2 linked regions of the Homo sapiens genome follow. The protein of the gene in region 1 purifies or fractionates together with the protein of each later gene. This does not show direct contact. Each region holds a gene or a part of one and is shown on either strand. Other genes may lie near its edges. The genes, in order: PTPRR and TRIM11.

The links.
Region 2: the proteins of PTPRR (region 1) and TRIM11 purify together in Homo sapiens (affinity purification with mass spectrometry; 2 studies listed by BioGRID and IntAct, with this or other methods). This does not show direct contact.

What each region holds. Positions count from the first base shown.
Region 1 is NC_000012.12:70,914,035-70,931,159, forward strand, and holds the start of PTPRR (receptor-type tyrosine-protein phosphatase R isoform 1 precursor), read right to left. Parts: upstream 6,705-17,125; 5' UTR 6,357-6,704; coding exon 6,299-6,356; intron 1-6,298. UniProt on the Homo sapiens protein: Sequesters mitogen-activated protein kinases (MAPKs) such as MAPK1, MAPK3 and MAPK14 in the cytoplasm in an inactive form.
Region 2 is NC_000001.11:228,396,836-228,406,100, forward strand, and holds part of TRIM11 (E3 ubiquitin-protein ligase TRIM11), read right to left. Parts: intron 5,327-9,265; coding exon 5,231-5,326; intron 4,360-5,230; coding exon 4,129-4,359; intron 331-4,128; coding exon 308-330; intron 275-307; exon of another isoform or gene 213-274; coding exon 112-212; exon of another isoform or gene 1-111.

The sequences.
Region 1 (17,125 bases):
GCTACTTGAATGAGGTGAGTCATCCAAAAAAAAGAAGATTCTCAAAGTGGGCTATGCCTGATCAACATTTGAAGTTGGAGAAAGAGTCATCTAAAAAAAGGAGCAGAGTATTGGTATTTAAGAGAAATAGAACAGTATGTGAAATGATTCAAGACATGGCAAACCAAAGGAAATTTTGTCTTAGTGTGATATTAGTGTGCAAAGGAGGGCAAGATGAGAAGACCTCATCGCAAAAGACTGCCTTCCTAATGAGTTTGGAGTTTATTCTAAAAGAAAAGGAGATAGCTGTATTAAAGAATTTTTTGGAGAAAGAATATGATCAGGTATGCTTTTAAGAGTTTCACCTCCGACATTATTATAAAGAATAAATTTGATAGGAGGTCATCACAAGATATTATGTGAGAAATAAGGATCTGTCTCAAGGCAGTGACATGATCATGGAGAGTGGAGAACATCTTATGAGAAGAGTTTGAAACCTTTAAGATGAAAGTAGCAAAGGGATGATCTAGGATCAATTATTTGTTTCAGACCTGGGTCATTGTGAAGAATCCTGGTGTTATTCACAATGTTAGGGAATATTTATCAGAGTAATTGTGTTGAGAAGTGTTGAGTAAAAATAGTTGTATATAAGATTATTGTGGGGCCAGGTACTGTGGCTCACACCTGTAATCCCAGCACTCTCTGAGGTTGAGGCAGGAGGACTGCTTGAGCCCAGGAGGTCGAGGCTGCAGGGAGCCATGATTGCACCACTGCACTCAAGCTTGGGCAACAGAGTGAGGCCCTGTCTCTAACAACAACAACAGCAACAACAACAACAACAAAAACAAAAAGATTACTATGGAATATACAATGACTTCTAGGTAATTTTAAATATAGAACCAGAGTTCAGGGGAGATAACTGAGATGGAAATGTGGATTTTGGAATCTTTGACGTGCAAGTCTGAGTATAATTATCCAGGGAGATTGTATACAGAGAAAAATAACAAAAAATCAATGACAAGCTGTAGAGAGCACTAACCATTAAATAATACACAGCAGAAGACCTAAAAGTACAAATTGAGAAATGGCTGGAGAAATAAGAGGGAAGCTAGGAAGTAATGACTGTCTGTGGAAGTCAAGTGAGGAAAAATTTTAAAATTCAGAAAGGGGTCAAAATATATAAGTACTATAGAAATGCATTGATAACAAGAACATACATTACAATAACCTCTTTAATTATGTTCAACCATAGGATGATAGGATGAGGACGGAAGCTGATAGAGAAGTAGGTGAGAAATAAAGAAGAAAAGGCTGAATGTGCATAATGCATCCCAGAATTTTTACAAGGTGTTAGGTAGGATGTGATTTTCAATGGAATATGTGAGGTGCTATTCTATTGGAGGTGCTAGAAATATGTCATCTCCAATATACATATTCCTGTGTCTCTTAAGTACCAAAGAAGCAAATCAGTTTTTTCTAGTGTATTAGACTCTCTGTTTGTAAATCAGCTGATCCCTGTAGCCATTCCTACATGTACAAGGCATTTCACTGAGAAGTGAAAATGTAGCCAATCAGCAAAGAATTTGGGCTGCACAATATCTGGCAATCAGTTTGAAAGACTTTTTTCACTGAGTTGATTAGTAGTTCTGGTCTAACACAAACCCATCCTTTATTGCCCTTCAGTTCACAATGACAGCAAAATCTGTTAGAGATAGTGTGTTTTGGGGGCATGTGAGGCAACATGAGTTTTGGACAAATGAGCTGTTTAAGTCCATTCCAGAAGTGGCTAAGTGGACTATGTGTGTTTTTTGTGGGTGTTAAGAAGATATTAAATGCAAAAAGAAGAGACCAGAAATATCACTGTATTACATTATTTATTTAACTTATTTATTTAATCTTTAGAAAGATTTTATGTCAGGAACTGCCCCCAGGTACTAGGTAGCCCAAGACCTCTAATACATGCAATAATAAACAAAACAGGCAAAAATATGTGCCCTAAATGGGCTTACATTTTAATACAGAGAGGGGAAACTACAATAAAAAAAGTAAAATATATTGTATGTTGGGTGGTGAAGACCTCTGGGGAAAGAAAAGTTAGGCAGGGAAAGGGTGCTAGAATTTTTATCTGGGTGATGGGGGGAAGGGAAAATGAAATATGAAATAGAATAACCTCATTAACAAGGTAATATTTAATTAAAGTTCTAAAATTATTGTGGGATTAAGCTGTGGAGACACCTGGAGAAAGAAAAAAGCAAAACAGTATGAAAGGGTGAGTGCCTGGCATCTTCTAGAAACAGAAGGATAAATATGGCTGGAGAGAGGTAAAAAAAGAAGAAAGTAGTGAGAGATAATATCATAGAAATAATGTGGAGAGAGACTCTAGACCATTGTAAGGTCTATATTGAGTGATTTTCAATAGGAAAAACAAATTCTGGAGTTCTAAGGAACATCTTAAAATCTTAAAATATATCATTTACCTGTTAGTCTATCGTTTCTTTTGAGGGTGGTACTTCTGCAAATCATCTCCCAGATCTTCTTGGCACCATCATAGAATACCTTTCTTCTCAGAGACTAGAGAAATTGACTATGCACTTCTCTGAGAGATTTTCAATAGGAAAAACAAATTCTGGAGTTCTAAGGAACATCTTAAAATCTTAAAATATATCATTTACCTGTTAGTCTATCCTTTCTTTTGAGGGTGGTACTTCTGCAAATCACCTCCCAGATCTTCTTGGTACTATCATAGAATACCTTTCTTCTTAGAGTCTAAGGAAATTGACTATGCACTTCTCTGAGAGTGAAGAGATAGTTTCAGGAGATACATTGAAGGCAGTCTTTGTGCCATTCAAAAAGGCTGATAGCAAGAACAACACAGAAATTTGAAAGAACCTTTTCCAGAACTCAAAGAGAAAGCAATGGATTGAAATCAGTTTCTGTATTTTGTTAGCAAAACATTCCCTAGGAAAAAGAAAGCTTTCACATGAGAATTTTTAATATATCTCAAAAATGTACTCTTTTGCAACTAAAATACAACACTATAAATAATATCTCCTCAAATGGAATATGCTTCTTTGGACAAAGGAAGAGGAGAAATGCTGAAGAAAATAAGCTCTGTGGATCTTCCACATAATATTTTTTTACCATTCGTATTATTGTGGTGGCTTTTAATTGCCTCCTTGAATATTCCTGAAGTGGTATTTTCAACTGGAGTTTATATATTAAACTGGTTCACGAAAGAGTAAAGAATAAGGACAGTTAGGTAAAAAGTATTTTGCACCACTAACTTAATCAATGGTGGCCTCACCTATTGTAGAACCAGTGTATAATTTTATATAGTATGCAACCACGGGTCTGGAAACCTGGGCTTTTATCCCGACTATGCTATTAACTACCACTTTAATACTCTAGATCTTCATTTTCTCACCTGTAAAATAAGCAGTTGGATGGACAATAACCACAACTTCCTTGTTAGGTGATCTATAAAAATCGGCTGCCATGGGTAGAGTAGTGTCCAGCTTCTCTAACAAGAACCATGCTTAGTAATCCTTTAGTGTTAATTTACCCAGAGATGCCACTTACACAGCATGGTACCCACTCCTCATTTTTCTCCCACAGCTATTATAGACCACAGTACTTCTCCCTAGCCAGAATGCGAGTCATAATCTTCTTTTTCCCCCCGATGGTGTCTTAGGCAACCATAAGCAAAATAATGGGAGATGGCACTCAAGTTGCAAGCAGTTTGCTACTTATCATTACAGGCATGGTTATATTGAAGGCAACAGTTCCTAATATAGCTAAAAAGAACACTTACATCCCGTTAGCACATTCCTCCCATCTCTAAAGCATTATAAGGTGTCATCAGTTCCACCAGCATAAAGCAGTTGCTGATACCCTGGGCGTAACCAAAATGGATCAATTAGCTTTACAGTTAAAGAGGCCTGAATGTATAGAATTCATTTCCCTTCTTTATGAAGTCAGCCTCTGTTCTGAGAGAAAAGTCTTCCATAAAAGTAACAAACTCACACCTTCAACAAGTAGAGATTAATATCTTGATTTCTTGATCTTTGTCATCCCATCCACTTATTTTCTTAATCTCCAAATGTATAGAAGCTTAGACCAAGGAGCTGTGTTTGTTTTAGTTCTGATGAAAAGCCCTAACAATGTTATTAGATAACTGTGATAAATTTTAATCTGATGACAGCTTGTGACCCACAAATTGCTGTTTAAAATTAAAATGCATTTAAAATGAAATTGGCAAGAGAACTATAATATTAAACTTACAATCTGCTGTGATAAAACACCAATGTATTTTACTATATTAAATATGAATACAATGAATAGTATCTTGCAATTGAAATATAAAAATGTCCTTAAATGCATTTTCTTATTAAATTAAAATTGGTTGATTAATCTTACTTTTTATCTTTGTTTTGCAAATTAAAAAGTTGAAGTAGAGATGGATTGGATTGGCTTTGGTAATATACCCTTTGGCAGAACTCCAGGTAAAATCTAGGGCTACAGGCTTCTAGGTTTCTCATCTGATGAGCAAAAGTCCTCATTTTTCTCATCCCGAATATTCATCTACAGTAAATCAAGACATGTTTTTCACATGCTTCAGTTTATTTATAACTTTTAAGATATAATTACTCAAGATGTATCAAATGTGATCTTTAAACTTTTTTATATGTTAGTTTTGAAAAAATGACTACACTGATATTGTTGGCAGACCAGCTAAATCATTGCTACCTTAGTAAGAATTGAGATTTTTCTGTAATGAATGTTTGTGTCAGTCTATTATTAAGCAATACTATAAATAAAACTCAACCCAATGTGTATGTTTTCATCCCACATTTCAGCATTGAAGAATTGTATGTGGTAACGAAATAATTCACTACAGCTGTTTGCAAATAATTTAATAATCAAGTCATAGCTATTTTCTACTTCTCAAAATGTGCCAAAGAACTATTGAAAACTCCACAATATAACATCATAATTATAACAATTAACATGTGTATTTAATAATAGCTTTAATAATCCTATGCATTATTTGCTCAAAAGATTCATGATACATTTAAATAATAGCGTTAGCTGGAATAAGAAAGTACCATATTTCACTCCTACTATTGTACACAGAGAATAAAATTCACCCACTCTTTTAAAAAAGATACTGCAAGGATTGTAATTTCAGAACAATTATTTTTACTCATTACCCCTAGAACATAGTATACACTCAGCAAATGTTGCTTGAAGGAATGAATGGATATGTGTGATTGGATGAGAAGCACACTCAGGGAAAATGCCTCGTCTCTGGTTGTTACAGGACTACTGCATGGACAACTGCTGTCACAGTAGGGTTTCTAAAATCTCCCTGCCATATTTTATTTTGGTTCATGTGTGTGTGACAATGATAAGGAATTCAGCCTAGCAAGTCTGTCTGCATTAAATAGAGGTGCTATGTATGCAAAAAGCAGGGACACCACATATAATATCTCTCAGGTACTTCCCAAGGTTTGCTTCCTCACGAGACTTGATATTGATTCTGGTGCCTCAAATCTATTTATATTTGGGAGCAGTCTCACTGTTACTCTTGGTTACACCTTATCAAATCTGTCCGAGGGACAGTGCCTAACCCAGGGTTGTCAGCTTTGGAACTGTAATTGTTTTTTTTTTTTTTTTTTTTTTTTTTTTTTTTAATATGCCAGCGGACGCTAGCCACGGTGCTGAAAGAGACAAGAGGATTCTATTTGAAACCTTTTCTTCCTCTTATTGGCTTAGAAAATTCGAGTGACAAGAGCAGGGGCCAAAGGAGCCTGGTGCAGCATCACTAATGTGAACCATGTATTTCGATCTTTTGGGCGGAGATGTGGTCCATCAGGTTACAGCCAATGCCTTCCTATGAGCGCTCGCTAGACCAAGAGACCTTATGAATGTAGTAGCCGCTGCAGTAGAAAAGGTTACATCTAGCAGGATGTCTTATCCCTCTCCTGAAAAATTGACAGTTAAGTGCATAGCCTAGAAACAAGAGCAGGGAATCTAGACGGAGGGGAGGCGAAGGGGGGAGCAAACCTGTATTCATATTGAAAATGTTCACTATTTTCGTATAAAGTAAAGAAAAATCAAGAGCTAATTTTAGGTTAAGTTTTCGGCCTCAGTTTTCCAACAGGTGCACGACTCCCTCACCCCTTCCCTGTCAGGTACTGTCCTGTTTTACCTTTTTAGAAAGGCTTTCTTCGCAAGGCAAGCTTTTCCTAGAGTCCTTAAGCATGTGCAGTTTCCCATCTCATGCACAGCTCCGGCTCTAAGCCTGGCAACCCCTTACCTGCAGCGTGAAGATTAAGGAGCAGGCACAGCGCAGGGAAGCAGACTGCTCTCCGCATAGTGTTTGCATTGAGAGGTGGAGGAGAAACTCCACCACGACCCCACTTCAGGTAAAGTGCTATTAGAAAGAGCCACCGCCAAGGGTCTTCTAGTCTCCGGGATTCAGGTCCTCGGCTGGGGTTTGCAGAGCAGTCAGTCTGTGGCGCCGACAGAAACCAGCACCAGCTTCAACCTCCCTAAGAGAGGGAGAGAGGAAGAGCAGTAGGAGGTTGCGGGTAAGGGGAACAGAAGCGCTCAGAGGCGGCAAATGCCTGGCCTTCTGGACGCCCAGAAGCCAAGGCGGAGACGGCAGGGTGGACTCCGCGCCAGCCCAGCAGCCCAGCAGCAGCGCCGCGGCTACTGAGCATGCCCAGCGCCGGCCCTCACGAGGCAAGGGAATTTCAAAGTGAAATTCCGCTTCTCCGGGTCTTAGCGGCGGCTTGGAGCAGAGTAGGCTCCATCGCTGGGGTGGTGGTTGGGGGTGGGGGTGGGGGTGGGGAAGGGGGAAGTGCGGGGGAGACACTTGCTGTGGTTACTAGGGACCCAGCGTCCATCACAAATCCGAAGGTGGGGTGTAGCTGAGTGAGAGTAGATGGGGGCACGACCACAGGAGTCAGAGGAGGGAGCTGATGACATTGTCAACCATGCCACCCACCCTACTCTTTCCCCAAATCTTGATTTACACGTGGACCGAGCTCACTGCTGGGAATTGGCATTTGCAGATTGACCAGCTTCCCAGGACTCGCCTACAGGAATAGAGGTGTCTTCCACTGCTGAGCATTCTGGCTGCTCGGGGGAAGCGTTCCCAAGGCAGCTTGCTTGGTGTAAGCAGTAACCATGTATCTTGGGGGTGACTTCGTCCTTCCTACAGCTTCCCCCTCTTTGCTTCTCTTTCCACTCTTTCCAGCTCAATGACTGTATTTAAACTTTCTTCTGACTCAAGTCCTCACAGTGACAGAAAGAAGTGAGAAGATACTTTTAGACTAGTAGAATATATCCATGTAATTGAAGCACAAGAAGGCACCTTTTTGTTTCGTGGAGGTAATTAACTTTAGTTTCCCTTTTACTCTTTAAGGTGAAAGATAATGGATCACGTCAGTGCCTGGACTCATCCGGCCCAGCTCTGTGTCTCTAGGGAGGCTACCACAGTCTGCCATTAGATGGTTTTTTATCCCTCCATCTAAGTCTTTGGAGTGTGGAAAGCCTTATTAGTCATGGCTAATTGCTGCTAGTCAAGTCAAGAAGTCCCTCAGCTAGACTTCTCTTTTAACTATCCCAGGGCCTCTGCCCTTTCTGCCTCTGTGTCTTTATGGACACTGTTGCCTCTTTCCCATTTTCCTCCACTTGCACCACCACCACACTAGTTTTCGAAGGTGTAATGTTGGTCTCACTTTTCCAGAAAGCCCTAACTCTAACTAACTCTAGATTACAGTGATCTTTCTCTTCCACAACACTTGTTTAGCCGTGCCTCATATTATTCTTTCAGACAGTTCATTTATCTGTGGTTTGTTCTACAGCACATTGAAGTCTCCATAAGAACTGCTGAGTTTTGTATTCCATTAACTTGAATAAAGTTGTCCTAGCCAAATAATTGGGGCTAACAAGTGCCCATTGAGTTGAGCTGCACATCTCATTCAGTGCTTTCTTTCTCCATCCTCTGTGAATTGAGACAACTAATGGGAAATAGGCTATCCACCAGAGCTTAAATTAGGTGGGACCTTATAAGATCAGAGAGCCCAGGCGGTACCATTTATTTCTTTTATGATTTATGTCATCTTCAGCTCTGAGAGACAAGGCCAGGAAGCACTCCAACAAGTGGGAGAAGGGGACAATGAGATGTACTTTTAATATCTTGACAGGCCTTCTCTGCTGAAAATAGAGACATATCTCCATGTCTAGCCCCTCTCTAGCAACGTGCTCCACCCCCTACTCCCCCATGCGTGTGGCACACTCCATTTCTGTGGCACTATCATTTCATCCCAAACCACTCTAAGCTGCAACCTCTTCTCCTATTCCTGATTCACTGTCCTCCAGTTTGCTTTTCCCGTATCACTTTCTAACAAACCAAAATAATTACTTATAAAATCTATTGTTTAGTATCTATTTCCCTACTCCCCCCCGCAAAACAGAATTTGAGCTCCAATGTTGAAGAACTTTGATGACTTTATTGATATGTCCCAACTCCCTAGAGCAATGCCTCATGCAAAATAGATACTCAAAAATGAATAAATGAAAATGATAGTTGACAAAGTTCAATACTGACAATTAACTCTTTGAAATTCTTACTGAGTCAACCTTTGAGATAATTTATTTAGCATTCTGTAAAGCTTAGAAGAATAACTCTTCTCATCTAACATCTGTTACTAGAAATGCTGCAGGGCTGGAGGTTAGGGAAAAATAATTGTATCCCACTTACAATAGGTCTATTTTTCTTATTTTCTTGTTTCCTAAAATAACTAATTATCAAACTTACATAGATCTCCAAGAATAAAATATACTTACTTATGGTAATGAAACAATGCTGCAGTAATGTTCTGAACCCCTTCCTTTTCCACAGATAATTCCAACATTTATTGGTGGGGCATTTAAAATTCCCATTATTATAATTGACTATGACTTTGCCAAAAAGCATCCTGCTGGCAATGTATTTTGTTCAGGGCTGCAGGTAGCTGAATTGTTAAACTATGCATGAAAATTCCGTTAGCAGCAAAAATTTCCAATTTCCAATTTGGCTGGATATATCATTAGAATAGTTAGTTCAGCATGGTAAAAATAACCCTGAGTGGGCTGTAATTTTGGTGACTAGACATTCATTATTAATTTACTTAGAAATGATAAAGTAACGAAAAAGGTCATATTCCTATGTGAGTCAATCTAATATCATACTTGTAACGGCTTCAATTCACTTTTTCACTAATTGGCTAATTCACTCATTGCTGTTCGTGAAGTCAAACAGCAATGAATGAATTAGCCAATTAGTGAAAAAGTCAACCACTTAACTCATACAGAAATATTCTGAGTCGATAGGTGCTGTTTTTCCTTAACTGTGATCTAATGCTAGTGAAGGTGACTTGGTGTTTTGGAAAAAAAGCTTGGTTAAAACACTGCATCAGGGTTTTAAAAAGTTAGCTGTAATTCAAAGAAGCATGGAAATTACTATGAGAGAACTATACAAATTAGTAGTGGCCTACAGAGCTATGTCATAAAAGAATCATTTACATTTTACAAGATAAATAAAAAATATCATATGGAATTTTCCTCCACATAAGATGCATAATTTCTTTTTCTTATGAGGTGAGTCTTAGAGAAAATTTATGCAAGAAAGAAGCTTTTCAGAGCCTGCCTTCAAAACAGATTTAATCATTATGAGCATCCATATTTACTTCTCTATAAATGGATGAAAATTATTCATGTCAGCCATCTTTCCTTAAGACACTTTAAATTGAGAAATCAGATCCATTGATTATAAGGATCTCCTACTTAAGTTATTTAGATTACTATTATTTAAGTATAATTATGGCTAACATTGACTGTGCTTCCTGTGTGCCAGGTTCTATTCTAAGCATTTGGATGTCCTATTTAAACATTATAATATTTCTACAAAAGGATACTATAATGATCTCATTTTAGAGATAATATAGTTGAGGCATGGAGAAGTAACTTGCCCAAAATCAAGTAGTAAGTAATCAGTTAAAAAGTAAATTGATAGAATTAAGATGTACATCTGATAATTTGATACCAAACCACTATATTATACTACCTCTAATAACACACACACACACACACACACACAGACACACACACACTCAGTTGTAGGTTGCTCACTAGAATTAGATGATTAGATCAGGGCTGGGCATGAGATGCCTGGCCCCACAGTAAAGCTCTGTGTTGAGGAACACTCATAGAAGACTGTCTCCAGGAGAACAAGAGACACTGCTTGTGGCAGTGGACTCTGGGCCCTAGCATCTAGTGAACAAAGACAGCAAGTAAAATCATGCTTAGAGGAACTGTGTTAGAAAGATGCTTAAGATAGAATGGAGAAGAATGGAGGAAATGATTTCTTCTATGGAGGGTGGGAGCAGAGGAGGGGATGGGCAGCAGGCAAGAAACTGGTGGGCAACAGGAAACGAACTGAGTCTGGCTGGATAAGTAGGTTCTAACTGCTCTACATGAAGAGAAAGGCCAGGGAATTGTGTGAGCCAGTGGCAGAGATATAAAGCAGCAAAATGGATTCAAGGAACTTCTGAACATGTAAGGGAGCAATAGGTAACAGTTATAAACACCTCACTAAGATTTGTTCTGTGCTTGCCCTTTCCCATCCTTTATGCAGCCACTTTATCAATCCCAAAGTCTGTTTCCTTTTGTCTGAGAGCTATCTTTTATAAGAGGAGAAAAGAAGAAAAATAATTTCTTTTTACAAAGTAAATAATTGATGTGAATTAAGCTATATTCAGAGTGGAATATAGCTCAGGATGAAAAGGAATGAATTCAAAATTCACAGATGAAAATACCATGTTCAGGTATATAAATTCACCATTATTATTTTTTAGTATTTTCCCAACCATAACAAGAAGAATGATCTACCCTTTCTCATAAGCATACAGTGAAGAGAACAATGAAATTGCAAGGGGCAATAAGAATAGGGGAGGAAAAGCACTAAAATTCTAAAAATATATATTATCACATTGAAGTCTCACAAGAGCTGTGTGAAGTATTATTTTTTTTTTTTTTTTGTAGTAGAGGAGAAAACTGAAGCTCAGCGAAGCTAGTAATTTGCCTATAGCCATCCAGTTGGTAAGTGGTGAAGCTGGGATTAGAACTCAGGTATGGTGACCCCTAGCACTATGCTGTTATCAGCTGTATTGTACAACATCCCTGCTTAATGACCGAACTTATTTTAATACTTAAATTGAAAACAGTGTTCTTATCCCAAGACACAGACTTCAAGATGGATAACAACAATTACATTTTATAACTTAACACAGTTGTAGTTTTGTTAAATTAAAGCATTTGATACACACACACAAAGGCAGCAATATGTATCCTAAGGAAAAAAATTAGGTACCTAAAACAAGGCAGATATACTTTTCTGTGCATATGTGAATTATGCTATTGTAGTAAAACATAAAATATGAAAAGCAGAAAGGCTATATGTACCTATAGATTCTGCTATTGGTTCATCATTAAAATTTTATTCAAAACGAAGAACAAAGTTTTCTTGGAGCTAGCCCTTGGTACCAATGTATTGTATTGTCATCTATTCTGGCACTGCAAAGGTCAGATTCATCCAAGATGTCAGTAATAGATTTATTTACAAACCTCTGACTCTCCTGCTTTAGCTCTCTGTTTATCCCAAGACACTAATCAGGCTGCACTTATATTATCCATCATCCTGAGCAGCACACAGATGTGACAGCCCTCTGTTATGGCTTAGACTATCTACTTTGAGCATTCAAATACATTTTCTGCAATGGTTGGCCATTCTTTTAGATTTCCTTGAATGAGGCCACTTTGGAACAACTTGTTCACACAATAGCCTGGGACACTAAGTATATCCTGGGATTGTAACTGTGGGTTGATTAGATCATTTAATCTTGCTCTCATTTCTCTACATTATTTTCTCACATAATTACAAGATGATTTAAAAGGACATCTCCCAAATATAGGCCTTAATGTCTCCCTCACTGACTCTTCATTCTTTTTTTTTTTGCATATATATATATCTTTATTATGCCTTAAGTTCTAGGGTACATGTGCACAACGTGCAGGTTTGTTACATATGTATACATGTGCCATGTTGGTGTGCTGCACCCATTAACTCGTCATTTACATTAGGTATATCTCCAATGCTATCCCTCCCTGCTCCCCCTGCCCCACAACAGGCCCCGGTGTTGACTTTTCATTCTTTAAAACTAAAAGTTTAAGGCCGGGCACGGTAGCTCACACCTGTAATCCCAGCACTTTGGGAGGCCAAGGCAGGCAGATCACCTGAGGTCAGGAGTCCAAAACCTGCCCTGGCCTGGCCAACATGGTGAAACCTCGTTTCTATGAAAATTCAAAAATTAGCCAGGCATGATGGTGGATGCCTGTAATCCCAGCTACTCGGGAGGCTGAGGTGGCAGAATCCCTTGAACCTATGAGGTGGAGGTTGCAGTGAGTTGAGATAGCATCATTGAATTCCAGCCTGAGCAACAGAGCAAGACTCCATCTCAAAATAATAATAATAATAATAATAATAATAATAATAATAATATTGAATAAAAGTTTAAACTTTTTAAAAATACTTATTTCTTTCACTCATTCTTGCTGCTGGATGCCTATAATAGAGAATGGGGTGGTTTATTAGTCTATAGTTCGTGGTTGCAAAGCATTTCAGAAGAAATTTTTTTTTCTTGTTAGACACCTGCACCTCTATAACATGAAGAGTTAATCTTACTAAAAATGTCCATTGACTATAACACAACCACTAATACACCCAGACAATGAAGCAGTTGTTTACGGTTTTAAGTTCGACTCATTCATCAGAAACCATATGTGATAGGGCAACACGGGTGCCTATGTTCAGTGAAGTCAAGTCATTTGAAGTCACATTACGGTAGGATATACTATATCGCATACATTCCAAAAACAGTGGAATCATCTGCCGACATTTCGTTGGTATGTTGCTTGATTTCAAATAATTAAACTATATATTGAGTACCTATGATGCATCAGGAAGTATATTAAGTACTTGGGATATATTGTTGAACAAAATAGACTAACATTTTTGCTTTAGCTTAAATTGTAAGTGAAATGTACCTTTAATAGTAAATATAAGAAATAAGTAAATTATATAGTATGATGGAAATTGATGACTGCTATGAGAAACAGAAAAAGTAGATCTAAGTAAGGGGAATTAGGCAGGTGGGGGTGGGGTGGGAGAAGAATATGAGTGCAAGGATTTTGCAGAATTAAGTAGGGTCTTTAAGTGGAGAAAGCGAGCATTGAGAAAGACTTGGAAGTTGAAATTAGCTGAGCAGAAACCTGGTTAAAGAACTTCCTAGGCCGAGGGAATAGCTACAGCAAAGACTCTCATGATTCCATAGATATCTTAACCAATCTGAAAAAAAAACCCCACAGTATCAGAAATAATTTTCAGCATATCTGTAAATATATAAAATATATAAAGAGAAATCCAGTTGGCAAATTGCCAAATTAGTTTAAATGAATATTTTTACACCAGAGATTTTCATTGATTCATGTTTCACTGATTTCAAATACAACTGTGAGATAGCAAAGCCGTTAACAAGATTCAGAAATTGGGACTACCCAAAGCCAACTGATGTACCAACTAAGAATTCTGCTCTTTATTCCATGTTTTTGGTGTAAAATAAACACCTTATTGATTTAGAAATGTGGGTGCCTATTTTGATATTTTATTCATTTTGAGAAACAAAGAAAAACTTTGTGAGCTGCCCTTATACTAAAACCACTAGCAAAAAGTCAAGCTAACATAATATGAATGAGAAATATAAGCAGGAAATGAGACCGGGCGCGGTGGCTCACACCTGTAATCCCAGCGCTTTGGGAGGCAGAGGCGGATGGATCACCTGAGGTCAGGAGTTTGAGACCAGGCTAGCTAACAGGGTGAAACCGTCTCTACTAAAAATACAAAAATTAGCCGGGTGTGGTGGCACATGCCTATAATCCCAGCTACCTGGGAGGCTGAGGCAGGAGAATCGCTTGAATCCAGGAGGCAGAGGTTGCAGTGAGCTGAGATCATACCACTGCACTCCAGCCTTGGTGACAGAGTGAGATTCTGTCTTAAAAAAAAAAAAAAAAAAGAAAAGAAAAAAAATATAAGCAGGAAAAGAATGAGAAAAATGCCCTAGCAAGCATTTTTGTTTTCTCAGCCTCCTGTGTGGCAAATGACATCAGAATATTTGGGTTAGTTATTGTCCAAATGCTGGAGGAAAACAGTTTGACAAATTCCTTGTTTCTTAGGATGGCTTAAGCAAATCATTTTGATACTTTATTATTTTTGGATGAAATAGAAGGTAGCTTCATTTTATTTTTAAGTAAAATTCCTTTTTTATTCAATTTAATGTGATAGGTGCCCATCAAAATACTACCTTACTGTGGCCGGGCGCGGTGGCTCACGCGTGTAATCCCAGCACTTTGGGAGGCCGAGGTGGGAGGATCACGAGGTCAGGAGATCAAGACCATCCTAGCTAACATGGTGAAACCCCATCTGTACTAAAAAAAAATACAAAAAAAAATTAGCCGGGCATGGTGGTGGGCGCCTGTAGTCCTAGCTACTTCGGAGGCTGAGGCAGGAGAATGGGGTGAACCCGGGAGGCGGAGGTTGCAGTGAGCCAAGATCGCGCCACTGCACTCCAGCCCGGGTGACAGAGCGAGACTCCATCTTAAAAACAAAACAAAAACAAACAAACAAAAAAACAAAAAAAACTACCTTACTGTTAATAGAAATAGAAAATATAAACCATTTCTCTTACAAAGGTGTCATTTGGAACCTCTAATCTTGGAAGTACTTTACTTTAGGAAAGATATCTACCCTCAAATTTGTCTTCCAAACTTAAACTAAAATCATATTTTATATTAGGTTTGTATCATAGAGATTAGAAAATGAATTCCTTTCAAAACCAAATTCAGCTCCAAAACTGGAAATAAAATGAAATTTTATTTGAATCAGTCATAAACATAATATATAGAAGCCCAATTTTACCTCACTATTTCTAGAAAGTAGGCAAAAACCAGGATGGTATTTCTGCAGTTTTCCTTCATCTAAATTAATTCTCTTCAGACTGAAATTGAACATTCTAAAGTACAAAATTTTGTAATATTGTGTCTATTGCACAATAGACAATAGAGAAAAAACAAAATAGAATGTGATCTATGGATTCTACCAACTGGTGACAAATACAGCTAATGCTTTGGCATAGCTGGTTTTCCTCTACCCTCATCTTGGGGATATGTGTGTCTTTGCATGCATGTACCTATAATTATTGTTAGTTTTAACATTATTTTTACATCATTGGGATCATGCTATGAATTTGGAAACTATTTCTTTACCTAATAATACTGTGAGACATAATTCCATGTCATTTAAGTTTGTTCACAATCATATTTTTAATTGTTGCAGAGCATCGTGCCATAGCATTCTATCATTGGCTTATTTTTTCAAGCCCTTCCTCAATTAAGGTGAATTGCTTCAGGAGAGCAAGGAAAGACATTCAGATAATGCTCACTTACTGTACAAAATAATGAAAATTATTATATATTTATAATATATTTCCAACATGGCAGTTCTAATCTGGCTCTGGTGAAACTATCACCCCATTAAAAGAAATTATCTAAAGTGTCAAAGCCAGGCATCAAGAAGGGGACATCAGGGATTCTGAGTCATACCTCAATCCCCGGCAAATTAAGGATAATCTAAATGTGTGCCTTCCAATCAGGAACCTGCCTATTTTAAGAATGATGGCTAAAAGCAGAGTTTGAATAAGGAGTCTTCATTTATCTTTTTCATGATCCCTGGATAACTCAATTGACTAACACTGATATAATTACAAAAATACCATTGTGTAAAAAGTACTATAACATGAATTGTATAAAAAAGAGTTATAAGTAATTGTGCTATTTCTTTTATTTTTAAAATTTGTTTATCTTTGCTTCTCATCTTTTTAACTTATTTTTTATTTCTATAGGTTTTTTGGGAACAAGTGGTATTTGGTACATAAGTAATTTCTTTAGTGGTGATTTTTGAGATTTTGGTGCATCCATCACCCAAGCAGTATACACTGAACCCTATTTGCAGTCTTTTATCCTTCACCTCCTTCCTACCGTTTCCCCATGAGTCCCCAAAGTCCACTGTGTCATTCTGATGTCTTTGCATCCCCATACTTTAGCTTCTACATATGAATGAGAAATACTATGTTTGGTTTTCCATTCCTGAATTACTTCACTTAGAATAGTAGGCTCCAATACCATTCAGGTTGCTGCAAATGCAATTAATTCATTTCTTTTTATGGCTGAGTAGTATTCCATCATATATATATATATATATATATATATATATATATATATATATATATACACACACATATATATATATATTTTTCCCCTTTTTTAGGTTTTCTTTTTTGTTTTTAAATTAAAATCTCACTACTGGGTATCTACCAGTAGTGGGAAATATATATATATTATCATATATATGACACATATATAAATATATGATATATATATATGATGGAATTTCCTTTTTATATCTTTTGCCTATTTTCACTGTTTTCGCTTTTCTAGTTAGTTTTTGGAAGTTATATATTCTAGAATTTAGATACTAAACTTTTAATTTCCATTTATGTTGCTAAAATATTCTGTCATTGTATTTTTTGTTTTATTATGTGTTTTGATTAATAGTTCTTAATTTTTTAAATTTATCTATTGACCTTTTGGCTATATATGATCTCTTTGTATCATTTCTTTAGTGGTTGTCCTAGGGAGTGAAATATGCATACCTCTTTCACAGTCTACTTAGAAATATTATTTTTTTACTTTAAGTAAAATGTAGATGACTTACAATTACATCTATATATACATAATTGATTTATACATATAATTGATTGAGATATATATATATCACAGTTTCTTTATTCACTTGTTGATTGATGGCCATTTCAGTTGATTCCACATTTTTGCAATGGTGAATTGTGCTGCTATAAACATGCATATGCAAATACCTTTTTTATATAATGACTTTTCCTCTGGGTAGATACCCAGCAGTGGGATT
Region 2 (9,265 bases), on another chromosome or scaffold:
CTGTGAGTTTGGAGCTGGCAGTGGCAGGGCACAGAACACGTGGCTGGCTGCCCAGGTCCTTGGCAGGTCCCCTCCTGGAGTCATCTCCCCACCTGGGGCCTCCACACCTACCTCGAAACCTCCGCAGTGTCTCTACCAGTCCCGGGACCCTGCACACGGTCCTCAGCTCCATAGGCACAACTTCTGGGGGCTGCAGCTTCACATCCTGGACCCTAGAGGGGACAACCCAGGTGTTGTCGCCATGGCCAACAGCTGGGTCCCACCCCACTCCCTCCTGCCCCCCCTCCAGGAGAGGCTGGGTTCGTACCTGCGCAGGGCGTCCTTGATGTCCTATGTGGGGAGGAGAAACAGCACACTCGGTGTCAGTGACCATCGCTTGCTCCTGGAGTCCCCTCCCCGCCCCTGGAGCCTCGCCCCGTCCCCCTCTCCTACATTTGAGCGTCAGGCAGCAAAAACACACACAGGGGGCCATAAACCACCCGCAGCAAGGCTCAGACACAGGAATGCTGGACAGAGGCTCTGACATGTGTGCCAGGAGGCATCACCAATGGGGTGCAGCCCAGCCCTGCGGACCAAGGCCCACTTCTGCCTGACACTTGGATGTAGGGCATCTGGCTGTTGGCTCACTCACCCAGAGCCCCAAGTGGGCGCCTCTGGGTGCCAAGGACAGGACAGGCACACATCCCAGCCTTCAGCATAGGGGCACCTCCACCCCAGCTGGAGCCCAACCCTGTGGTTGCACTGCTTCCTCTCCCAGCTCCACCTGCCCTGCAGGCTCCCTGCTCAGCCCCACTCTTGGGCGTGCGTCCTTCCTGTGTCACTGCCTGATACGTGATAGCATCTGACTCCATGTTAGGGCCCGAATTGTGTCCATCCCGCCAAATCCGTATGTTGAAGCCAGAAACTTCAGGACTTCAGAACTTGACTATTAGAAAAAAGGGCTTTTAAAGAGGAAATCATAGTAAAATGAGGCCATTAGGGTGGGCTGCAATCCAAAATAACTTGAGTCTCATAAGAAGGGGCGACTAGGACACAGACACCCACAGAGGGGAGACCCTGTGAGGATACAGGGAAGAAAAGGCATCTACAGGCCCAAGAGATAGGCCTCAGGGGGAACCAGCTTTGACCTCAGTCTTCCAGTGTGCAGGACTGGGAGACAATCAGTCTCTGCTGGGGAAGCCTCCTGGCAGGTGGTACTAAATGTGGCAGCCCGAGCTGGCGTGATACACCCAGGTATTGGAACATCAGCTCTTAGGAGACACGGTCTTGTATCTCTTAGAGCAGTCTTCAGTGCACTGCAAGGATTTAACCCACACTGTCAAATAGACGATCCCACACCATGTTCATTCTAACACACGTGGTGCCAGCTACCAGGCCAGGATGCAGAGGTCAGTAAGACATAATCCCAGACAAGGGTTTCCCTACATGTAGGAGAAATGGCAAAGGAAGATTTCCACACATACGGGTAGTTAATTCTGTCTAGGGGGACAACAACACACTCTAGGCCCCAAAAATTTTTTAAAAAGGAGGCCAGCACTTTGGGAGGCCAAGGCAGGCAGATCACTTGAGTCCAGGAGTTCAAGACCAGCCTGGGCAACACAGCAAGGTCCCATCTCTAAAAAAAAATTTTAAAATTAGCTGAGCTTGGTGGTGTGTGCCTACAGTCCCACCTACTCAGGGGACTGAGATGGAAGGATCGCTTCAGCCCAGGACATCGAGGCTGCAGTCATAATCACATCACTGTACTCTAGCCTGGGCGACAGAGTGAGACCCTGTCTCAATAAATAATTCATAAATAAATAAATAAAGAGGAGACTCTTGGTAGGGTTCTGAAGCCCAAGAAGAATTTGTTGGTAGACACAGGGGGAGTGCGCAGGGTGAGGGAGGGGTGTGCACAGGGCAGGGGCAGATGGTGCTGGTGTGAGCAAGGCAGCTGGGAGCAGCTCCACCTTGGTTATTCTACCTGGGGTGGGCGGCCCACCCCTGGTGTCATTTGGAAACAGGTGGTGGCTGTCACAAGGCCGGGTGCAGGGGCGGCAGGAGAAGGGCTTGGGGGTAGAGGAGAACCTTGGCCTCGACAAGGGGGTTTGGTCTCTGCACAGAACACGGGCCCTCCAGGGGCAGCATTGACTTGAACAAAACCACTCTGCGGCTACAAGCAGGGCCTGCTGAAGGGGGCAGCCAGGACCCCAGAGTCCATAGCAGCCAGGGCCCCAGAGTCCACAGCAGCCAGAGCCCCAGTGGGTGGATTCCTGGGAGTCACTCAAGCCTTTACCTCCACTGTGCAACCCCTGTCCATTCGGCCTGGGTGCTGGGAACCCGGGTTGGGTTCCCCTACCCAACCGGGGGCCAAGGGTGCAAAGCCATCCCCACCTGTCCCTCTCAAACCAGCACACAGCTCACATCAACACAGAGCTGCTGAGGCTGCTCTCCTGCAACCCCCATGTGGGCAGACCCCCACAGCATGCAGGCCATGTGCTGGCAGGTTGGGGGGACAGGAGGGACCTCCCTGAAGCCTTGTAGCCAGGCCAAACCTGGGCAGGGAGCTTGGCCAAGGCATGGACGGGTGGGCCACTCAGCGGGGTGAATGCAGGTGGGTGTATGAGACCCAACACCCACCCACCCGCCCACATGCCACAATGTCTCAGCTGAAAGCCCAAATTGCATCTTCACACAAACCCTGTGGGTCCCCATTTCCAGGTCAACTCACCTTCCTTCTAAACCCTTCCTGGCTTCTCCAACACCTGTCCTCTCTGCCCTCCCTGAGGGCTCCTCCTCAGTCTTCTGGGTACCTCCCCACCCCACAATTTACTGACCACAGGACCCTCTCCTAATATTCCTCAGTCTTTCTACAGACGCTAGCCGAGCGTCCTTCCCGCTTCCCAGGCTCAAAGCCAGCTGATGTCCAAGCTGGTGCACGCGGCACACGGAGTGGAGGAGCAGATGCTGCAGACTTGGAGGTGGGGGAAACTACCTACTGGGTACAGTGTGCACCATTCGGGTGATGGCTACACTCTGACTGCACTTGTACCCCTTAAATCTACAAAAAAAAAAACAAAAAAAAAAAAACAAAAAACAAAAAAACAGAAAAAAGCTTACAATAGAAATGACAATCGAAACCAGGAGCCGGTGCCTGGACTGATGTTCTGCTGGGCTCCAGAGGCCGGCAGCAGGTCACCCCCTGTGCAAAGCCGCCCAGCCACATCTGCAGCATTGTGGGCTCCACCTGGGTCTGGCAGCCCTGCCCCACCAGTGGCTGAATTCACTCACACACGGCCTCTCTCCTCTGTGGGAGCCAGAATTGCCCAGGGGCCCATTTCCCTCTGAATCTTGGGGCCCCTTGAGTCTACACCATGCTGGGCATGGAACACGTTCTCCATTTTGTGGGAAAAACATCCAGCTGAACCCCACGGGAAGATGATAGCAGACACTCCCAGCCCACACGGGGCCTCTCAGCATGGGAGTGCCGTCAGTCCTCATCAGTGCACGCTTGCCAAGCGGAGAGAGCTGACTCCAGGCCCCCTGACCTGCCGCCAGGCCACAGGCCAGGGCGTCCACTGGTTCTGGTTTGGGGGTGCACCAAGGAAAGCCCAGGCCCAGGGGGCCGGCTCAGGGAGTGGAGCCCACACATGGGAAAAGACTCTCCTGGAAGCAGAGGAGGAGGAGACTGCCCCCCATAATGGAGATGCATGGGGTGTGCCAGCGGGGTGAAGACAGAGTGAAGGGCGAGGACTTCCTGCTGGGGACACCATGGCAGGAATCCTATGGGAGGCCCAAGGTGGTCCCAGCGAGCACATGCCCACTCTGCTGTGCCCACAGGGAGCAGCAGTGTCAGTCAGGACGAGATGGAGTGACCTTATGTAATCACTTAAGAAACATCAACTGTTTACATCTACAGAGGAAAATTGATTTTCCCTTTCTCGGCACGTGGGTTTTGGGGGTGGGACATCTGTCCTGCTGCTGACTCAGCATTTCACAGGCAACAGCCAGGCACATCCAGCCATGCCATTCACCTCTCAGCCCAGACAACCTCTCTGCCCCTGCTTCTTGCACTTTCTGGTTCTCCCTCCCCCAGTGTGGCCAGGCCATGCCCGTGTGGCCACCATGGCTGCTCCCCGCCCAGCTCACCTGCAGCAGCCCCAGAGCAGGCAGCTGGCAGCGGCCCTCGAGCTCGGCGATGAGCTCAGCTAGGTGGGCGCTCTGCTGGCCTAGGTGGGCTGCGCCCTCCCGCAGCCGGGGCAGCACCTCCAGCTCCTCCTCCTCCAGCCTCTGCAGCAGCTGCTGCTCCTCCTCTGCCAGCAAACGGCGAAGACGCTCGAACTCACCCAGCACGTTCTGCCGCTGGCTCTCCACCATCTTCTGTGGAGCCCAGGGAGAAGGACAGCTGAGGCCAGACCCCAGGCCCAGCCAGACCCCAAGTTTGGTCAGACCCCAAGCCCACCCAGAGGCCTGGCTGCACCCAACCCCACCCCCGGGGCCTGCTAAAGCCAAAGCACAGCACCAGGTGTGGCAGGACCCCAAACCCACCACCTGGTGCTGGCCAGACCCCAAACCCACCTGTGGCACCTCCCAAACCCCAAATCCACCACTCAGGGAGAGCCAAATCCCATTCTACCACACAGGACTGGCTAGACCCCAAATCTAAACCCAGGGCCGACTAGATCCCAAATCCACTATCTAGTCCCTCCCCAACTTCCAAATCCACCCATTGGCTTGGTAGAACCCTGCATCTACCACCTGGGGCCAGCTGGACTACAAATCTACCACCCAGGGTCCCTCCTGACCTCCAAATTCTCCCCTGGGGCTTCCCAGATCCCAAATCCACCACCCAGAGCCTCCCAGACCCCAAATCTACCCCAGAACTGGACAGATCCCAAATCTACTCCTCAGGATGGCTGAATCCCACATCTATGACCTAGTCCCTCAAAACCTCCAAATTTACCTCCAGGGCCCAGACCCTAAATACACCTGAGAGTTGCCACCCAAGCATGCTGGGACCCCAGGATGGGGCCCTTGCAGTATGGGAGCCCACGCCCACGACCTGGCAGGACAGGTGCACGTGGGAAAGGACCAGCCCTTCAGTGGGCTCGGTGGGGCCAGGCTGAAGCAGTGACTGGTCCTGGGGCGCCAAGGGCAAGTGTGCCTGGCCAGCATCGCCCCCTGGGGTCTCCTATACAGGACCTTCACCCCCTACCCTGCCACCCAGGACCCTGGGAGCCCCAGCACCTGCCTGCCACAAGACGCAGGTCTCATCCGCCTGGGCTTGGAACAGCAACGCATCCTGCATCTGCTTCCGGAGATGCTCCAGTGACTTCTCCAGCTTCGCCTGCGGGAGAGGCCAGGCAGGACCATGAGACATGAGTCCTGTCACAGAAGCCTGCCCTTTTGCACCTGACACCCTGTCCCCTCCTCAAAGACAATGGGGACAAACTGAAATCTGCCTGGTGAATCAGGGAACTCAATGCCCTCCAATAAGCGTGAGCCCTCATGGTAGGTGGGCAGCCTCTTGCCAGAGGCTGACAGCCCCAGCCACATTCTTTCCTTTTTCTCATATGGGGCATTTCTAGTCCTCGACCTTGCTACCCTAGCCCAGGCCTCACCCCCCTTTGCAAAGCTACCTCAAGGGTTCTGGCTGCCCACCCCATCTGTCCCCAAGCTGGCTCTGAAGGTGCTGAGCTCTCCTGTTCCCAAGCCAGTGTCTACTCCTCCTCCTCTTCCTTCTCACCTGCTGGCTCACATAAGGGCCTTGGACCAAGCCTATGCTGGGGTCCAAAAATTCTGCCCTATGCCCCCACAAATTCATAGGTTGAAATCCCAACACCCAGTGTGATGATGTTAGGAGGCGGGGGCTTTGGGAGGTGACTAGGTCAGGAGGGCAGTGCCGCCACAATGGGATTAGTGTTATAAAGGAACCCTCGCCCCTTTCACCATATGACAACACAGTGAGAGGGTGTTGTCTGTGAACCAGGAAGCACCCTCACCAGACACCAAACCTGCCAGGGCTTGATCTTAGACTTCCAGCCTCCAGAGCTGTGAGTCTCCAGCTTGTATACATCTGCCATGTGCAAACCATGGTGTTTTGGTAGGACAGTCAGCACGGACAGACATGCCTGGCTACCCACCCTATCTTTTCTCCAAGCCACTCGGGACCTTGTGCATTTTCAGCTTCATCAGCTATCACTGTAATAAGCTCCAGGATGGGTACACCTCCATTCTGCTTTCTTGGTCCTTAATTCTCATTCCCACGGTTCCTCATGCTGTGCATACCAGGAAGCAGTGAAAATCCTGTACACAAGCTCACTGTACTGTGTGTGCTTGGGGTGCCCTGAACCCACTTCTCGAAGGGTCTGCTCACTTCCACCCCATCTGACACCCTTATCAGCAACGGGCCCTGTGCTGGCCACACCTCTTTGCTTCTCAGCCACCCCAAGTCTTGGCTCTCATCTCTCGCTATCCACGCTCTGGAAGGATGGAGGTGCTGGGAGGGTCCAGAAGTCTGCCCCGGTAGCAGAGCCAGGACTTCAGCCCAGCTGCCTGGCTCCAGGTGCTCACTTTAGTTCACCACTTGGCCTCACGATTCGGGAAGACCGCTGGAGCACCAAGGACATGTCCAACTGCTTTACTGTCTCTGCCTAGGCTCAGCTCTCACGTGAGCTACAAGAACCCCAAATGGCGGTCCCTGTCCCCAGGCCTCTCTCCTCACTGCTGCCGACCTGTTCCAGAAAACTCAGGCCTGGCCCCTGTGACCCCAACCCCACCTCAAACACTTGGCCCAGTGCCTCTCACTTCTCCCTCAATGCCTCAGTCCCTACGGGACATTTTCAGTTTTCTTTTTTTGAGACGGAGTCTCGCTTTGTCCCCCAAGCTGGAGTGCAGTGGCACGATCTCGGCTCACTGCAACCTCTGCCTCCTGTGTTCAAGTGATTCTTCTGCCTCAGCCCCCTGAGTAGCTGGGATTACAGGTGCCCATCACCACACCCAGCTAATTTTTGTATTTTTTGTACAGATGGGATTTCACCATGTTGGCCAGGGTGGTCTCAAACTCCTGACCTCAGGTGATCCGCCCACCTCGGCCTCCCAAATTGCTGGGATTACAGGCGTGAGCCACCACACCTGGCCAACGTTTTCAGTTTTCAACACTAAGGTTACAAACAGCATTTGATCAGATGGAATGGGCTGTAAAGCAGCACAACATACCCAGCATGGCAAAGATCTTGCATTTCAGGTACCTGCATCTTTGTGTCTCTGGCCAGATCAGAACAGAAACCTCTTACCCTGCGTGTAGTCAGAACTGGGATGCTGGGGCTTGGTGCAGGCCTGGGATCTTCCCTGGCCTCCTCCTTCCTGTGGCAAACCCCCTCCCCACACAAGTGCCATCTGACACACAACCCAGAGAGATCTGGGGGCCATCTTCTCTCTCCCATGGTGCTGCTTCCTGGAACTGGAGCTTACTGGGACTTCCCTGTTTACCACCTCGGGGCAACCCAGCCTGGGGCTTGTTCAGCTGTCATGACCCCAGGTCAGGGCCAGGCAAGGAGTGAACCTGTCATGGAGCTAATGGGCCCCAGCTCTGGCAAGTGGACACACAGCCCCATAGGTGGGACTGAGCTTTCTAGGCCCATGGGGGCAGGTAAAAGCAGTTTGCTGTGGTTAACATAACCTAGGCTCTAAGGCAGTGAAGAACAGGATGTCATCCCCAAATATACCGCTGTGGTACAAGAATTATTCTGAGTAAAAGCAGATGCAGGAAGAGCTCTCTGTACTCCTATCTGCCTAAAAGTAGGGTATTCATTCCCCATGAGAAAGGCACCCTCTCTCTACCAGGAAGAGGAGGGCACTCTAATCCTGGGAGATGATTCTGCCTAAACAGACCTTACTACAATGACCATTATCTTGTGTTAATTCTTCCCATCTATTTCCTAGTCACTTTCCCACAATTTATCAGTCCTAGACGCCCAATCCCATTTCTGTGTCCAGTCACTTCTCCACAATTCACAAACCTTTGCTGAAATACGCTTTTCTATGAAGTTCTTGTGCATGTGAAACTTAAAATATTAATCAAATTGTATGATTTTTTTTCCTGTTAATTTGTCTTGTGCCAGTTTAATTTGCAGCCCTGAGCCACTGAACCTAACAGGGTAGAGGGAAATTTTTTTCTTCACCTGCAAAAGAAAGGGTTAAGTGCTATCCCATGAAACTATATCGAGTCAACTCTATAGAGCTATTGGGCACTCTCTGCACCCATTGGGGTAATTGGTGTCACAAGGGTAATTCTGCTGGGCTAACATGTTTCAGGTGTAGACATTCCTGCATGGGCAAAGAAAAGAAAACCCAAATGAATCTGTGTCTGAACAAGCCCACGGATATGGCTCTAAACCACCTTTCTGCTAAAATCCAAAGCAGAAGGGGACAGATTCAGATTTATTCTAGTATCCCAGAAGTTTGCTCTGTGATAGGGACAGATCAAGCTCAGTACTGATTCTAACACTGCCTTAACTGCTCATCTGGCACACACAAGTGACCATGATGCAACACACAAAGTGCAATCAAGAAAGCTCCAAAGATGCTGCCATCTGCCCCACACGTAGGCTCCCAGGAGCACACCTGCAGCAGGTCAGCGAGGAAAGAGGACAGCGGGAGGGAGCGCAGGCCAGGGAACGTGTGCCCCAGGCCCTTCAGCTCGGGTTTTATTTGGGTTTTAAGCAGCAAGACAAGGGGAGAAAAGGCAGGCTGAGCCCTGGCATCTCAGATGGCAGAGATGGCTCCCAGTACCCCACCCAGAAATGCAGGGCAGCCCTGGAGGGGAGGTTAGAGAGGAAACGACTGTGTCCCCCTCATCCTGCCCAGTCTGGGGCTTTCCCAGGACTTAAGTACTGACCTGCTAACACAGTCCCTGCAGGGAGTCCATCTAGGATCGGCCACCTCTGAGGTTCTCCCACTTTCCTCTGATTCCAGCTCCTTGCTGGCCAGGGTATGGCCACATTTTCCTTGCCCCCACTCCACCACCTTCCACCTTCCACCTTCCTCTCTTAGCCTCTATCTATGAGAGGTACGCCCCTCACCCCCGAGAGCAGGGTCTCATTGGCGGCCATGGTCCCAGCCTCAAGGGGCCTGGTTGAAACAGGCTGTGTCATGAGCCCCCACAGCCACCCTGCGCGACACCCCCCTCACAGGCCCACAGCAGGCTGCATCCTGAGCTCCCCGCCCTAGACAGAGACAGATTACTCCCGGAGCAGTCCCCCAAACCTCCCACCCGCCCAGGCCT